Regions from separate parts of the Homo sapiens genome. Here region 1 is linked to region 2. A link means that fine-mapping ties the variant in region 2 to the expression of a gene that starts in the linked region. Tissue or cell type: whole blood. Region 2 holds a variant in brackets; the other region holds the start of a gene. All regions are shown on one strand. Distances are from middle to middle.

Region 1 (8,000 bases), 160 kb before region 2:
TTCTAGAAGCATAAGAGATAATAAACAAATAAATAAAATATATAGTATGTCAGATGGTCATAACAGCTATGGAGAAAAACAAAGTTGGAAAAGGAGTTAGAAAGTGTCAGGACAAGGGAAGGGGGCACTGTCATGTTAACTAGATGTTCTTGGAAGGTGACATTTGAACTAAATCTGGGGAGGTCCTGCGTGGTTTTGGGGAAGAAGGAAGGGACATGAAAATGATCACACTTTTTTTTCCTCTCTAGTCCTGTCCTCAGGATCTTGCATTCCACTGCGCTGTGTTTATTGGTAATGACCCACACTTTTAATTAATTAAATGATGCTGTCAGACTGAAAGAGACACTCCATCCAATAGAGATGGAGCATGGTAGCTTGACTCAGACCCTGAGGGATGGGCAGAGACTGGATGTGGTGCGAGGCGAGGACAGCAGGAAGGATAACGTAAGCAGGAAGAGGGCCTGGGCAGACAGGAGCACCGCCTGCTTTAGGGACAAGCTGGAGATCTTCCCTGCTCCAACAGAAAGGTAAAGAATAAAGCTGGTTTTGTGAAGTGGGCATACGAGCTAGCTAGAAAAGGTCACGCTTGGTCATAGAGGCTACAGGAAGTCACCAAAGCTAAATGAGCAGAGAAGAAATATGGTGAAACAGGTATTTTAGTAAACTTCATCTAGTGATAGAAACAGATGAGATAGGAGAAAGAAGAGGCTACAGGCAGTGAAGCCATTTAAAATCTTATTTTTGTTATCTAGGTATTAATTTATAAGGGCTGGACCGGAATGAAAGCCACTGTGAGAACAGTGATATTTACAAAGAAGTGATATTTATAAGAAATAAATGGCAGACCTTGGTAGGTGATTAGATCTGAAGGACACAGGAGGAAAAAAAGTTAGAGCTGACGTATTTCTAAAGTTCAGAGAGAGGCAAGCAGATGGAGTCATTCCAAGATACAGGCCTCTGTGATCCAAAGACCGTGTGACTTACTCGGGATTACACAATTAGCAAAAAGCTGAAGCCAGAACCCAGATTTCCTGCTTTTCCCTCCACTGGATGACTCCAAAGTTTTAAACCTGGAAAATGAGGAAGTAGTGTGCCACCACCGACCCCCCAAAAAATGTGTGATTATGGAGAGATAGCTAGCTTCCAGTTAAGTAGGGTAGATGGAGAATTTTAGTTTTATACTGGAGTTTGAAGATGTTAGAGTACAGAAATCTGGGAAATAGGCAAAACTTTAGGATAGGAAATGGCTCTGCCCTTACTAGTTTGTAATCTTGGTCAAGTCACTTAACTTCTCTAAGCCTCAGTTTCTCCAGTTGCAAAGAGGTATGTGTGGGGGGGTTAATGTTATTATTTAATGGTTGCTATGAATTAATTTTTATAAAGGACTTGGAGCAGTACCCGGTACAAGATAAGTGTTATTTAGTTGTTTGTTCAATAAAATAGGTAAGATGCAATGTAGAGAAAGAGGTCGGCTTTCTGGGGAGGTAAGAAGAAGATGTGGGGAAAACTAGAGCATTTAGGATAATTGATGTATGGTCTGAGATAGAAGTCAAGGGAAGAGTTGTATAAAGGTGAAAAACAAAATTGAATGACACAAAGATACGGAGAAAGAGGAAGGCCAAGAGAGACCATCAGATGCGGAAAGAAGGAGGCCTCCCAGAGTTCTCTCTGGACAGAGGGCTGATGGAAAACGAAAGAGGCAGTGAGAATAAGGAAGAAAGGCACTTGGATGGCTATTTGCCAGCAATATGTGAATGTATCTAACAGCAGATCAAACTTGAAAACAGGCATTTGACTAAATTAATGGATAACACATTCATGGTGAATTGTTAAAAGAGTGTTAAGGAAATCTGGAGACAATTCTAACCATCAAGAAATTGACAGCACAGAGGATAATAATGCTGGCCTAACCTTCATGGTTAGGTACCAAATACTAAATCTATTGCAGTATGATCTGAGGCAAGATGGAAGGTTTTATGATTCCCACATTCACCCAAAAAGTTTCCTTGATTGCAAATGCTGAAAATCTGAGATGCTTTCATTACATTTTATTTATGTTTGTGTGAAACCAGTATATTTTTGTTCTATATGAAAATGTATGTCATAAACATTCAGAAATTCAGAGGAGTTCATCCGAAAGGCTGACATGGTACACCGTGGACCGAAGCCTCTGGGGCAAAATGTTTTCTATGTATCATTCGTTGAGTCTCAGTTTGAAGAAGTACTTACACATTTGTTCTCTTTGTATTTTGCTATCCAAATGTTTGCTCATAAATTCCAATGTAGTAAATAAGGACAGTTTTGAAAGTCAGAAACTCTAAATTTCAAAAAAGCTTTATTTTTCTTTGGGTTTGTTTTCGTATGTAGTCTATTGTAGTCTATGCAGTGAACTTTGTCTTATATGCTTAAAAGGGCACTGATATTTGGTGGGCATTGGGGGGCGGGGAGTTACCTAACCAGTACTGAAAAGTTACTAAACTACCTGACACAGCTGAAACCAGGAAGGAAGGCTGTATCAGGAAGAGACTGAATATAGTCCTTAGGTGGATTTTAGTATTAGGTGACAAATTAGGTTGTATTGGACTGGCACTGTCCAATAGGAATATAATGAGGCTCACAAATGTGAGCCACATGTGTAATTTTACATTTTTAAAAATGCAAACCACATTTTTAAAAGGGGAAAACAAACAGGTGAAATTAACTTTAATAATATATTTTTTATATCCAAAGTATCATTTAACATGCAATCAACATGAAAATCATTAACAAGACATTTTACACGATGTTTTCTGCGCTGTCTTTAAATTCCAGTGTACATTTTACACATCCAGCAGTGGGCAATTCAGACTAACCATAATGCCGAGTGGTCAATAGCCACATGTGGCTAGTGGCTATCATATTAAATAGTGCAGGTTTGAACCAAAAATACTTCGCTTTGGTTGTTTTTTTTTTTTTCTTTTAGACGGAGACTTGCTCTGTCGCCAGGCTGGAGTGCAGTGGCAGATCTCGGTTCACTGCAAGCTCCGCCTCCCGGGTTCAAGTGATTCCCCTGCCTCAGCCTCCCAAGTAGCTGGGACTAAGGCGTGCGCCACCACGCCCGGCTAATTTTTTGTATTTTAGTAGAGACGGGGTTTCACCACGTTGGCCAGGATGGTCTCGATCTCCTGACCTCGTGATGCGCCCGCCTCGGCCTCCCAAAGTGCTGGGATCACAGGCGTGAGCCACCGCGCCCGGCCTGCTTTGGTATTTTTTAAGAGCAAGTTGGTAAATGGAGGCATTATATGGAGAGTGCTCGAGTATATATAGCACAGGTTAGAGCAGCACGCCGGCACCTTGAAGCGAACACGGGCTCCTCCACTCCCGTCAACACTGGGACTTTTCTGTTTTTATCTTGAGTTTGAGGCCGGGCTTCTTAGCAGACCTCAGTCTGAAACTGAAATAAACCTGGACGCAGCGTACCCTTGAATCGCAAGAACGCCGCCTTCAGTGTTTCTCCGGAGAAAAGCATTCACGCCAGGTTGTGACGAAAACATTTTTTGAGAACTCATAATGTTTATTCCTTGGATGAATCCATTATATTTATTTAGTGTCTCAGGAAGGATGATGGGCATATTGCTTGCAAAAGTTGATTTGAATCCTGATAGATTCCACTAACTTTTTTGTCTTTTTTTTTGGCTGCCTTCTTCGAGAATGGTGTCAACCCTTAATAACACCTAGCCTTACGAATCCCTGGGGTGATTCCCGACCTCGCCAGCTTTGTGGGGCTCCCCCGACTTGCCTACATTCCCTGGCAGCCTCGCAGCTTCGGGCAGATGGAGCTTCCGGCCTGCGCGCAGTGGTCGCCTGTCGTCCGCCCGCGCTCCCTTCGGCCGGAGGTCGGCGGCCCCGGGCAGAGCGCGCCGTCTGCCCCAGTATCGGGAGGCCAGTTCCGCGCTGGGCCCACGCCCTCCTCGCCCGCCGCTGCCTGCGCGCCAGGCCGGGTGGCGGAGCCGGCCGTCGCTGCTCCGAGCTCGGACCCTCCCCCGGGGTGATTTCGGCTTAGAAGGTGGAAATGCGGAAGTTTCCAGCGCCGACCGACAGACGAGGTTTGCGCTTGGCTGGGCATGTTCCGCGGCTACTCTGCGGCGCGCCAGGCCCCCGCTTTCCGCACCCCGCGACCCTAGAAGCCACCGAACCGCCGGCGGGCCATGGCCACTCTGCCGAGCGCAGAGCGCCGCGCGTTCGCGCTCAAGATCAACAGGTAAGACGCCCCCCGCGGCGCGCAGGTTGCGGCCGGACAGCCCAGCGCTGGTGTGAAGCGGAGCTTCGCTGCAGGGGCCGAGGCCGGACGAGTCCATTCGCGTCCGCGGCGGGGCGCGCCTGAGACCTGGGGCGCCCGGTTCCCGAGGCTGCGGCGGTGGAGCCGCTGGACGCGCGGCGGCTCCTGCGCTGGGCCCGGCGAGGTCCTCCCCAAGAATCTCGGTGCTCCTGGATGTCCTCAGCCGCCGGGGATCCCTTCCCCGAACAACCTCGCCCGCTCCGCCCTCCAGGTTCTTACAGGTGGCCGGGTCCCAGAAGGGTGATAGGCGCCTGGGTAACCGTGTTGGGCGCGCCACGGAGTGTCTCATAAACGGCTCCTTCCTTTGAGGCAAGTCTGAGCGCGGGGGGAAGAAGTGAAGTGGCTGAAATTAGAGTTGCGTTTGAGGCAGGCTGCAAGCCTTCTGTCGTCCTGAGCAAGGCTCCGTCCTCGCCTGCTTCATTATTCCAGAAAGAGCTTGGCTCCTGGTGGCATCGCTATTTTTATACCCTGGTCCAAAGGAGCCATGAAGTGGAAAAAGTGATTTTTTAAAAAATCTACACTTAAATAAACCAAAAGAAATGGCCTGTGGCTGACATTTTGAGATTTACAGAACTCCAGCAAAAAGCTAAGGACTGGGGGATCCCAACTCACCATCCAATTCCTAATCAAAGTTGCACAAACTAAATATGTAAGCACATTTACTGCTCAAAGTTCTCAGTAAAGGTGCTTTAACTGCAGTTTTTCCTCCACTAAAAACTGCTGACAAGTAATTGGGACATTTTTGTCTTGCCCTGAGAAAGCTAGACTGTCTAGTTAAAAGATAATAGGAAACTCATTCTAAAGTGTCAACTTATTCTATTGCCCACAGGGCTGTCCGATTTGTTAATCTTCACTTAGCTGAGCCTGTGAAAGGTGGATTCCACCGTAGGTTCATCTTTGTGCTGTTAGTGTGTGAAGAGGTTTGAACAAGGAATTAAAAGCCTAGAAAAACAAGGCGATAAGGTCTTCTAGAGGGCATATCGAGCTTTATTGACGATTTTATTTCCACTTGATACGTGACTGCCAGCAAACTGTTTCTCTTACCTTACTATTTCGTCATCTGTAAAATGAGTTTAATTATTTATGTATATTGCATATTAATGTTGGAGGCCAAAAGGTACTAGTCAAAAGGCATAAAGAGGCTGGGTGCCATGGCTCACACCTCTAATCCCAGCAATTTGGGAGGCCCAGATGGGAGGATTACTTGAGCCCAGAGTTTGAGACCAGCCTGGGCAACATAGTGGGACCCCTGTGGCTACAAAAAAATAATTTTAAAACATTAGCCAGGTGTGGTTGCATGCACCTGTAGCCCCAGCTATTCAAGAGGCTGAGACAAGAGCATCGCTTGAGCCCAGGAGGATCACAGCTGTGATCATGCCACTGCATTCCAGCCTGGGTGAGAGAGTGAAACCTTGTCTCAAAAAACAGACAAAAAAAAAAAAAAAAAAGCAAAAACAAGGCATGAAGTATATCAGGGATCTCCCTATGGGAATTTTTTTCTACATTAAGGTTCATAGCTGTTGCATGCCAGGAGGGGTAATTCATTCAAGGAGTATAGGGAATCAAACTGAAGTTACTGATGGGTGTATTATTTGCTATAGCTCCTGATCCTCTGTCTTTGTGAATTTTAGATCAGGAAGTGTGACTGGGGCAGAAAGATGTTAGAAACTATGGGGTTGGGCAGGGTTGATCTGGGGTGAGTGGCCGAGACCCGGACTAATCCTACAGGCAGTCTTGCAAGCAACTGCGGGGTCGGTGTCACCTGGGGGTTAAGAATAAAGGCCCTGGTTAGTGTCTGATCTGCTTGCAAATTGGCTCTCTGCTACAAAGTCACTGTGCAACATTGGACATGTTACTTAACTTCTCTAAGCTTTGGTTTCTTTATGTGCCAAGTAGAGTTGATCATAGTACCTACTTCTTATGACTGTGGGGAGGATTAAATGAATAATAGGTACAAAGTCCGAATTGCCAAGTGCTGGATGTGTAACATACACATTGGAATTTAGAGACAGTACAGAAAAAATAATGCAAAATGTCTTGTTAATGATTTTCATGTTGATTGCATGTTGCTTGTAGTGTCTGGCTCAGAATAAATGGTGAATAATTCTTAGTTGCCATCATTAACATTACAATCAGCTTCACTGCTGTCATTATCTCCATCATCACCATCTTTGAGAGCCTAAGATAGAAAGGTAGGAAGGAAAGCTGAAGTTGGAGAGCTTCAGGCAGAGATCAGTTTGGGTTAGGTATGGAGATGCCAGTGGCTGGCTGGGAGCTTTCTTGGGGCCAGTGTTTCTCCGCCTGTGCCTTCCATCTGGTGCTGAGAACCCAAAACACATTCAATGGAAGAAAATATGTGATGAAATCTGATCAAGAAGAGCCCCCTCAAGTTTAATAAAGTATAAAAGGTTCTATAATCCTCAGGCAAGAAAATGGATTGGAAATTCGTATTCTTAGAGTTCTGTTTTCCTTTTTGAAGCACTCTGTGTGTTGTGTGGGAGAGTTATGCTAAGGAGCTTGGCAGAAATTATTATTCAAAGGAGCAGATTAATAAGGACATACCTAGTATTCATATATCATTTAATTTCACCATTTATTGTTTACTTATTGTGTCCCAGACACTATATTATACAGTTAATGGATTTTATGATTAAATTCTCACAAAAAGCCTATCAAACTCATGAAGTCTTGTACAGAAGAGGAAAAGGAATCTTGGAGATACAGCTGCACAAGGCCATGTAATTTTTTCAAGACCATACAACCAGCAATGGCAGAGCTGGGATTGCAAACTGCTCCAAAGACTGTGCTCTTAATTGGGCCGATTGTTATTTTGATGCATATGTATCCCAAGAATTTCCTTTAAAGCAAGAGGGGAATTAATTTTTAAAAAATCATCATTTTGGTAGCAGCATTGGCAAAGTGTTCTGTTTCTGATTAGTGTTTAATATATAAACATTAACAATGTGATGTTTTGCAATGTTGAAGGTGGAAAAGAAATGTTTTCCCTTACGTGCCTACCTATTATTTTTTTTAAATAGGTCAAATTCCAAAAGTAAGACTGTGTTGAAATATGGCCATTAGTACATTCAGCATGTGCTCATGTTTTTCACCTTACTACTCAGAATAGTGTAAACTATCTCTTAAAAATATTTGTGGGATAAAACCAGTGTGCTTCCTGTTAATGAAGTATTCAAATCTGATATATTAAAAATATTATTTGTAAAGCGTTCAGTTCTGACCACACCAGTCTCCAGAAGGAGTGAGCAGACTATCTCACAGTCTGAGAAGAAAGGTGAAATTAATTTTCTTGTAAGTGCTATATACTTGTCTTCATTTCCATTTTTTTGTTGCTGACTTGCGTGCCAAGGAAAGACTAGATCTAAGTTAGGCAGTTCGTAATAACATTTGCGTTTGGGATTTCAGGTGCTGCTGCATTAAATGTCATAACATGGTACTTGTGGGAACATCTAGTCTTGTTAATTGCCTTTTTTCTTACTGGAATTTAGTGCCTTTGTAGATTATAAAAATTATTACTAGTACTCTGAAAATTTATTAAACAAAATCTTAGTGTCTTTCAAATACAGAATAGATGTAAAATTTGATCAAATATTAAAGTAAAATAAGAACCTTGGATAAAGAGGACGAAAGTGTAGAATGCAGAAAAAAACATTAACCCTCTTGT
Region 2 (8,000 bases):
CTGCCTCTGTTTAGACAGAGCACGATTTGGGAAGTGCTGCTAAGTCAGCCAGTGGCTGAGTAGAAACAGCCCTGCAGTGGGCCTCTGCCTGCTCTGTGGCTCGTTTATCATGTGTCTCATCTTTAAAAGTTGGGGCTCAGTCTAGGTGCCTCCTGGCCTGAGCACCCCAGAATTCTATGCTGATCCCTTCATTGTGACATGGCCTGTCATCTACTCTTCTGGGAAGACCATCTGCACCTCACTGATACTTGAAGCTCATTGAGTATTGTCACATATCAGCCCAGAAAGTCACAGGGTACAGCAACTCATACTTGCTCCCAGCACCAGGCCAGCCCCATTCTGCCTCCAGGGAGTCACCCAAAATAGAGAGATGAGGGTAAAATAAGACCTAGGAATACTATTTATTTGCCTCCATGGCCTTTGAACTTGCACATCCAACGTAACGGCTCCTGTGTGTTCTTGATTGTTCCAATTATCATTTTTCCTCTCGAATACCTGAGAGCATTCATTATTTTGCAAGAGATTTGAGAATCCCTGTGCCCTAACTTTTCTTTCCTTGATGTGGGATGTTCTTCTGTGACTAGGTAAGTTTATCTCAATGTGTCCCCAAATAATTTCTCAGAATGTTAAATTCATAAAAGCTACCATGAAAGGATAAATAAATGAAAGGAGTTCTGAGGTCAAAACATTTGGGGAAAGAAGAGTCTTTCTCCTTCTGAGGCATTCTCAGTGCACAGTAACCTGTTTATCTCGCTTTGCCTTGCTCTTTCCCAAGCACATTTTTGCTCAACGCCCCCTACCTTCCCCATACACTTGTTAACACTTTGCAGAGCACTAGGGCTCTGTGGGACAGGCTGGGAAATGCAGGTTGACATGCCACTGTTAATACCTAGAAAATTAAGGCAAACTTGTCCCTGAGAGATGTCAGGATAGCACAGTATGGAAAGGCCATGCTTATCAGGGCTCTTATCTGAGAGAATACAGTGGTTATGAGCATGACTCTGGAACTAGACAGTCTGGGTTGAATTCCCCGCTCTGCCATTTAGTTATATGATATGGGGTGTATTACCTAACATCTCTGTATCTCATTTGTTCCTCACTTGTGACATGGGGATGATGACAATGATAATAGTACCAACCTATAGGATAGCTATGAGAATTAAACAAATTAGTAAATATGAAGTATTTGGAACATTGGCCTGACTCAGGATAAGTCCTGTTTAAATGTTAGTATCATTATTATTGTTTCTTCAAGCCAGGAATATACTTCATCAATTATGTGTACACTCATTCCTTCATTCAACAAACACTTACTTAATACTCCTGTGTCCTAGGCACTGTTCTAGTGCTGGAGATACATCAGTGAATCAAAAACATGAGAGAAAAATCCCTGTCCTTGTGGAACTTACACTGTAGTGGAATCTACTACTAATAATGCAAATAGAAAGAAAAATATATGCAAGTTACCCAGGCACTGGGTAGCCTAGTACCTGTCCTATAGTTGTCAAATGGATGGATATATTATTCTTATTGTTGTTGTCGTTTACAGTAATTGAGCTTGGAGGTTTGAGCTGCCATCTTAGATAAGAACAGAAAGCTAAGCCAATACGAGTGCCATGCCAGTAAGAAAAGGAAACTATTACATAAAGATTAGGAAGAAAAAAGAGAAGAATGACAAGTAGGCCATTATCTATGGCCATGAGTTTTATTTAAAATGAGCTGGACCTTTTTTGCCTTCTTTATCTGTGTATCAGATAGACAATTACCTCTAGGCAGATTTCCACATTCCAAGACATGAAGACTTTCTAAGCTGCAGCAGACACATCTTTACTTGTAGCAAAACAGAGAGCGATGGGGGTTATTTTCAGATGACTGTAGCTGAAGAGGAAGAATCAAGTAATTCACTCCCCCCAATAATAATTCACTTCTGAGAGGAAAAACTTCTTTGGAAAAAGCACCCCATGAATGGAAGTCTCAGCATTTGCTGAAGAACTTAGTTAAAATAAACTCTAGACCTTTTTCATTGATTCTTTATCTCTTCTTTTCCAGAAACCTTCTCTATGTCTACCCACAGAGGCTGAACTTTGTAAACAAACTAGCATCAGCCCGGAACATTACAATAAAGATCCAGTTTATGTGTGGAGAAGATGCTAGCAATGCGATGCCGGTAAGGAGGGAAACGAACATTTGCCTCAAATCAGGGTGGGCTGCTCACCCCTGTCACTTCACACAAGTCCGGGACTCATCAGTGTACAAAGTCCGTCTATTCCAGGCCAATACTGCTCAGCATGTGCAAGGGCTTCTGTGCCCAGGATATCAGTGGGGAAACAGGGTCAGTCTTACTTGACGATCTCTTTCTCGGCTTATTCTGTAGTGAGCTTGGAACATACAGATCATTTTAGAGGATTAAAAAAAGTCATAAAGTCTTTCCATACTGCCCATAGGACCACCCCACTCTAAAGGCATACAAAGTAAAGAGATGGCTCAACACGTGCGCCATGTTTGCTGAGTGTCTTCCATGCACAAACTGTACACACTGTGTTATACACACACAGTGTTACACACTTACTCAAGCCTCGGACCACAGTGCTGATGAATACAAAGTACCGCCTAGTAATTATAAACACACACCACCTCCACACCTTCTAGGAGTGGATCTTTGTTCTGAGGCAAAATATAAATCAAATTATTCATATATATATATATATATAAAATGCAGTGTGCTCCAAGGAACTCAAAATGCCAGAATTTATACTTTTTAAACCATCTCCTACTAAATGAGATGGTGGTTAGCTATTACTATTTCCCATAAGTCATAGAATTCAGTTAATATAACTTTCTTTCTTTTTTTCTTTTTTTTTTTTTTTTTTGAGACAGAGTTTCACTCTTTTTGCCCAGGCTGGAGTACAATGGCCGCAACCTCCACCTCCCAAGTTCAAGTGATTCTCCTGCCTCAGCCTTCCAAGTAGCTGGGATTACAGGCGCGTGCCACCACGCCCAGCTAATTTTGTATTTTTAGTAGAGATGGGGTTTCACCATGTTGGCCAGGGTGGTCTCAAACTCCTGACCTCAGCTGATCCACCCGCCTTGGCCTCCTAAAGTGCTGGGACTAAAGGCGTGAGCCACTGCACGCAGTTAATATACCTTTCTAAAAAGAAAAAGAAAAAAATCCTTTCTCTTAATGTCCCACCCAAAGAAAAAAAGAAAAAAAAAAACCTTTCTCCTAACGTCCCACCTGTCTTCCCAATGCAAGGTGTCTTAAGACAGCGGTGGGGTCCTCTTAG[T/A]CCTCTCTGCTCAGGCCCCTGGCATGCCACTGCCAGGAGTGCCAGATATGCTTGTGCAGATCCTGTGGCAACCAAGATGCCCAGCCAAGAGTGACTGTGGGCTAAAGTCCAGTCTGTTCTTCATTCACTGAGCCATGGGTTCTGGTGTTGGGATTACTGCATCTAGAGGAAAGAGCTTTTTTTCTCTGCACAAAGGTGAGTGCACTTGTTCATAATGCATCCTAAATGCTGCTTCAGGCCCAAGGAGGTATCTTTTTCTAAATGGCACAAATGTGGATAAGGCAGTGGAGATTCAAATCACCTAAGTGAGTAGGTCTGTATGTTTGAGAGAGAAGAACCTGGAACTGGGGATTTCTCACTCAAGACAAAAGTATGTAACTTTGGCCTGTTGGATAGACCTCTAGGCAGTGAGGCAGAGTGGAGAGAGTACTGGTTTTCTAATCTCACAAACATGTGGCCTTTGGTCACTAATATAGCCCCTTGGAACCTCATTTCACCCTTCATAGCCAGTTCCTTTGCACTGGTGTGCTTGGGCCAGTTGTAGTCCCAGCACTTTTTTTTTTCTTTTTGAGACAGGATCTCACTCTTGCCCAGGCTGGGGTGCAATGGTGCAATCTCGACTCACTGCAACCTCTGCTTCCTAGGCTCAAGCGATCCTCTTGCCTCCGCCCCCTGAGTAGCAGGGACTATACGCATGTGCCACCACGCCTGGCTAATTTTTGTATTTTTTTGTAGAGATGAGGTTTCGCCATGTTGCCCAGGCTGGTCTCCAACTCCTGGGCTCAAGCCATTCTCCCACGCCGACCTCCCAGAGTGCTGAGATTACAGGTGTGAGCCACTGCTCCTGGCCAACCCAGCACTCTTAATTGTACAAAATGCAGCTCTATGAGACCAGAACATCCTGTTGGCCTGATGATAGTCAATTTGATGTACCCAAATGTTACTGATAATTTGATCCTTTCTCTACTGGTGAACAGGTCATCTTTGGAAAATCCAGCGGGCCTGAATTTCTGCAGGAAGTGTACACAGCTGTTACATACCATAATAAGTAAGTCTATTTCAGCATTCTAAATATATGCCAAGATGGTTTCATCATCTCCTGGTTTTTCCAAGTCCCGTGGGTGGTTCCTCCTAACTATTTTTATAATTCAGGGACTGAGGGGCAAAGGAAATCCATGCCAGTTCCGTGACTCTGTGTTGAAGATGTATAACTTTGCCATTAACCAAGACTGAGAGAAGAACGTGTCTTCAAGAATCCAATATAGTTTTGACTTTTCCAGAAGCTTCTATTCTAGTATGATGCAAAGAGGTTGTATTACGTTAATTAAGGAAACACATTTCCTAACTTGCTTTGAGACCCTGGAGGGGACCAGAAGCACAGTCCGGCTCCCCTTGCCCTGTGTGTCCCTGTCCGCTCCACTTGACACCTGCCCCACTGTCTGCCTAGGCTGACCAAAGGAGAAATGGAACACTCATTATTCCACCGGCAAATGGAGTCATGGGATAATGCCCACCCTATTATTCATGTTCCACAGGGAAGGGAGAGACACCTGCACAGTGTTGGACGGAATTGGGTTTGATCCGGGCCTGATAACCTGGGCCTAATTAAGTCCTTCATTTAAGCACATTCTGGGATTGGGATGAGGATTAAGTGAGGTAATGTACATTACATACCTACATTACTTTACAATGTACGTAATGTACTTCGTAATTAATGAAGAACCTAGGGCTTCATAATGCAGTTAAATTGGTTCCTTTTTCCTCCTGCCTCATTCATTTGCTTCTACTCTTTGATGAGTGCAGCTAGGTGCTAGGCTTGGTTCCTTGGGTAGAAATGGAAAAAGGAGGTCACAGCAGGAGTCCAAACCTCATCCTTTCTTCAAATTAAGTTGTTGGAGTTTTCCATTGTGTGGGGGAGTTGTTTTTTGTTTTTTGTTTTTTGTTTTTTGTTTTTCCTGACAAAGCCTTTAGTTCATGAACAGTTTTATGTAAGGGAAGTGCATCTAATAACATAAGCTTGGTCTCAGGGACTTCCAGCTTCAGAGCAGAGTAATGTAAAATGAAAAGCAAAACACCAGGCAAATTCTGAGGAGCAAAGGGGCTGTGGCGTTTTACAATCAGAGAAGTCATCATTCTTGCTAAAAGTTATTTGTGTATAATGTGCTTTTGAAACAGGTCTCCTGACTTTTATGAAGAAGTGAAAATTAAGCTCCCCGCTAAGCTCACAGTAAATCACCACCTCCTGTTCACCTTCTACCATATCAGCTGTCAGCAGAAGCAAGGAGCCTCCGTGGAAACTCTCCTGGGATATTCAGTGAGTTGTTTCCAGCCTGCTGACTCACACTGCAGTTGTTGGTGCATCTGAGGTCCCTGCAGAGATAAACAACCAAATTCTATTCACTTGATTTTTTCCAGTCAGAAGTAGCAAAACATGCTAAGCCACATTATAGCAAGAGGCAGAAATGATTTGCCTTAGCAAATGTCAAATTTCAGGAATGGAAAGCTAGCGGGTGATAGATGTTGGAAGAATACTCATCTGTTTTTTAAAAAGCATTGCAGTGTTCACTATTTCCAAATTTAATATCCATGCTTCACGTATAGAACTAGCTTTGTCCCCCAAGAAGAAACCATTTTTTCTTTAAAAGATATAAAAGGTGAAATAAACATTGATGTTGTTCAGACACACACAAACATTGGCTACAGAGAAAAATGCTACTGCTTTAGCTCCAAAAGCAATAAATCATCAATATTACCATTTCAGGAGGTCTCGGAGATTTAAAATGCAAAGAACTGGACAGAAATTACTGCCAAAAAGAGTACTGGTCAATATCTACTCACTGTTTAGTTGCATTTGATTATTGCGAGCTAGATAAATTATCAGAATTATATGCTGTAATAAATACCACTTTATTATTTACATCATCTGTTTCAGTGGCTGCCAATTCTCTTAAATGAACGTCTTCAAACTGGATCCTACTGTCTCCCAGTTGCCTTGGAAAAATTGCCACCCAACTACTCCATGCATTCTGCTGAGGTAATTGGCAAGCTGGCCATCAGCTGTTTCTTGTCCAGCTGTAGTCTTGGACCACCTTCCCAGACTCACTTTCCATTCCCATGTGGCCATGGATGTTCATCATGTTCTCAGAGAGCACATTGTTCTGATAGGATGGGAGGAATAACTGACTGTGAAACCTCATTCTTTTAAATGCCACCAAATCAGAATGTTCAGTAGACGCAACCTACACCCAAGGCAGCATAACCTTGCATTATCTACCACAGAGGGATTCCCAGAATAATGTATTATAGAAGAGGAGGCAAACTAAGGCCATTCATAGTAAACAACTGTTCCCATCAAGGATCCTTATAAAAGATTCCCAGGCCAGATTCATCCGTTTCTTTCTTGGGTCAGTTGTCACAGCCCTCCGGTAGATACCAAGGTATTTATTCTCCTACCAATCCCAATGCCAATAGCCTTTCCCACTTCCTGTTTCTGGCACTTTCTCTTGCTCATCCACTCTGCTGCAGTGCACCCATTTAAAGAGAAGCCCAGGTGGATCAACTGAGGTCAGGATTTCAAGACCAGCCTGGCCAAGGTGGCAAAACCCCATCTCTACTAAAAATACAAAAATTAGCTGGGCCTGCTGTTGGGTGCCTGTAATCCCAGCACTTTGGGAGGCCGAGGCAGGCAGATCACTTGAGGTGAGAAGTTCAAGACCAGCCTGGCCAACATGGTGAAACTCCATCTCTACTAAAAATACAAAAAAATTAGCCGGGCGTGGTGGCGGGTGCCTGTAATCCCAGCTACTCGGGAGGCTGAGGCAGGAGAATCGCTTTAACCTGGGAAGTGGAGGTTGCAGTGAGCTGAGATCACACCACTGCACTGCAGCCTGGGTGACAGAGTGAGACTCCATCTCAAAATAAATAAATAAAAAATAAATAAAGGGAGCCCAGGGGACTGTCCACCCTGACTGCACCAGCTGTCACACTGCTAGCCCACTTCTCAGTTCCTTGCATAGGTTTACATCAATAAGTATTATTTTGAAGTAAATCTCGGACATCATATTTCATTTTAGTCTGCATCTTAAAAGATAAGGGATTTGTTTTTAACCATCACAATACCATTGTCATACTTTAAAATTTTAACTGTAATTTCTTAGTATCATCAAATATTCAGTCACTGATCAAATTTTTAATTATCCCACTAATGCTATATTTTTGACGCTTGCTTTTTAAAATTGGTATTCAGATAAGGTCCACACACTGATATTGATTGTTACATCTCTGGAGACGCTTTTAATCTACAGATCCTCCATCTCTTTTGCTTTCCTTGCAATTTTAAGTTGAAGAATTTCTCAGAAATTTGAATTTAATTTCAACCGTTCCAGTCAACTTTCTTCTCTGTTCTTTCGCCATCTACCGTCTCACTTCCGGCTGTTTTCCTCTTATTTTCTTTTTTCCTTAAAGAGAGAACCAACTTTTGCCCTGGACCACAGGCATGTGTCTGGTAAACCAAAACTTCTCTCATCAAAGCCATCTAAGGGGCAATCCGAGTATGTCCACAGACATTTCCCTGATTGGTCTTTATGATTTGGACATCAACACCTTTCAGTATCCCTCAAAACCACCTTCTTATCATCAAGTTGCACACTCTAATTTCTTAGAACCCCCTATTATCTTTTTAAGCTATAGGAAAGACCTGAGTGTTGGAGAGAGACA

Evidence for each region. PIP is the estimated chance that this variant, and not a neighbour inherited with it, causes the effect.
Region 1: DOCK8 starts here. The variant in region 2 is fine-mapped to the expression of DOCK8 in whole blood (TOPMed, PIP above 0.99).

What each region holds. Positions count from the first base shown.
Region 1 is chr9:210,790-218,789 of GRCh38, forward strand. It overlaps DOCK8 (dedicator of cytokinesis 8), which reads left to right and starts at 4,076. Exons shown (of 48, transcript NM_203447.4): 1 at 4,076-4,240. The coding sequence starts at 4,188. DOCK8-AS1 (DOCK8 antisense RNA 1) reads right to left here and starts at 4,961. Exons shown (of 1, transcript NR_160804.1): 1 at 2,668-4,961. RefSeq lists silencers at 3,831-4,080, 4,091-4,140, 4,191-4,240, 4,411-4,550.
Region 2 is chr9:365,969-373,968 of GRCh38, forward strand. It overlaps DOCK8 (dedicator of cytokinesis 8), which reads left to right. Exons shown (of 48, transcript NM_203447.4): 15 at 2,050-2,167; 16 at 4,262-4,332; 17 at 5,460-5,598; 18 at 6,217-6,318. Among named protein-coding and RNA genes, the nearest start is that of DOCK8-AS2, 100 kb to the right of the region's middle. The variant T/A (reference allele first, on the strand shown) is at 3,285.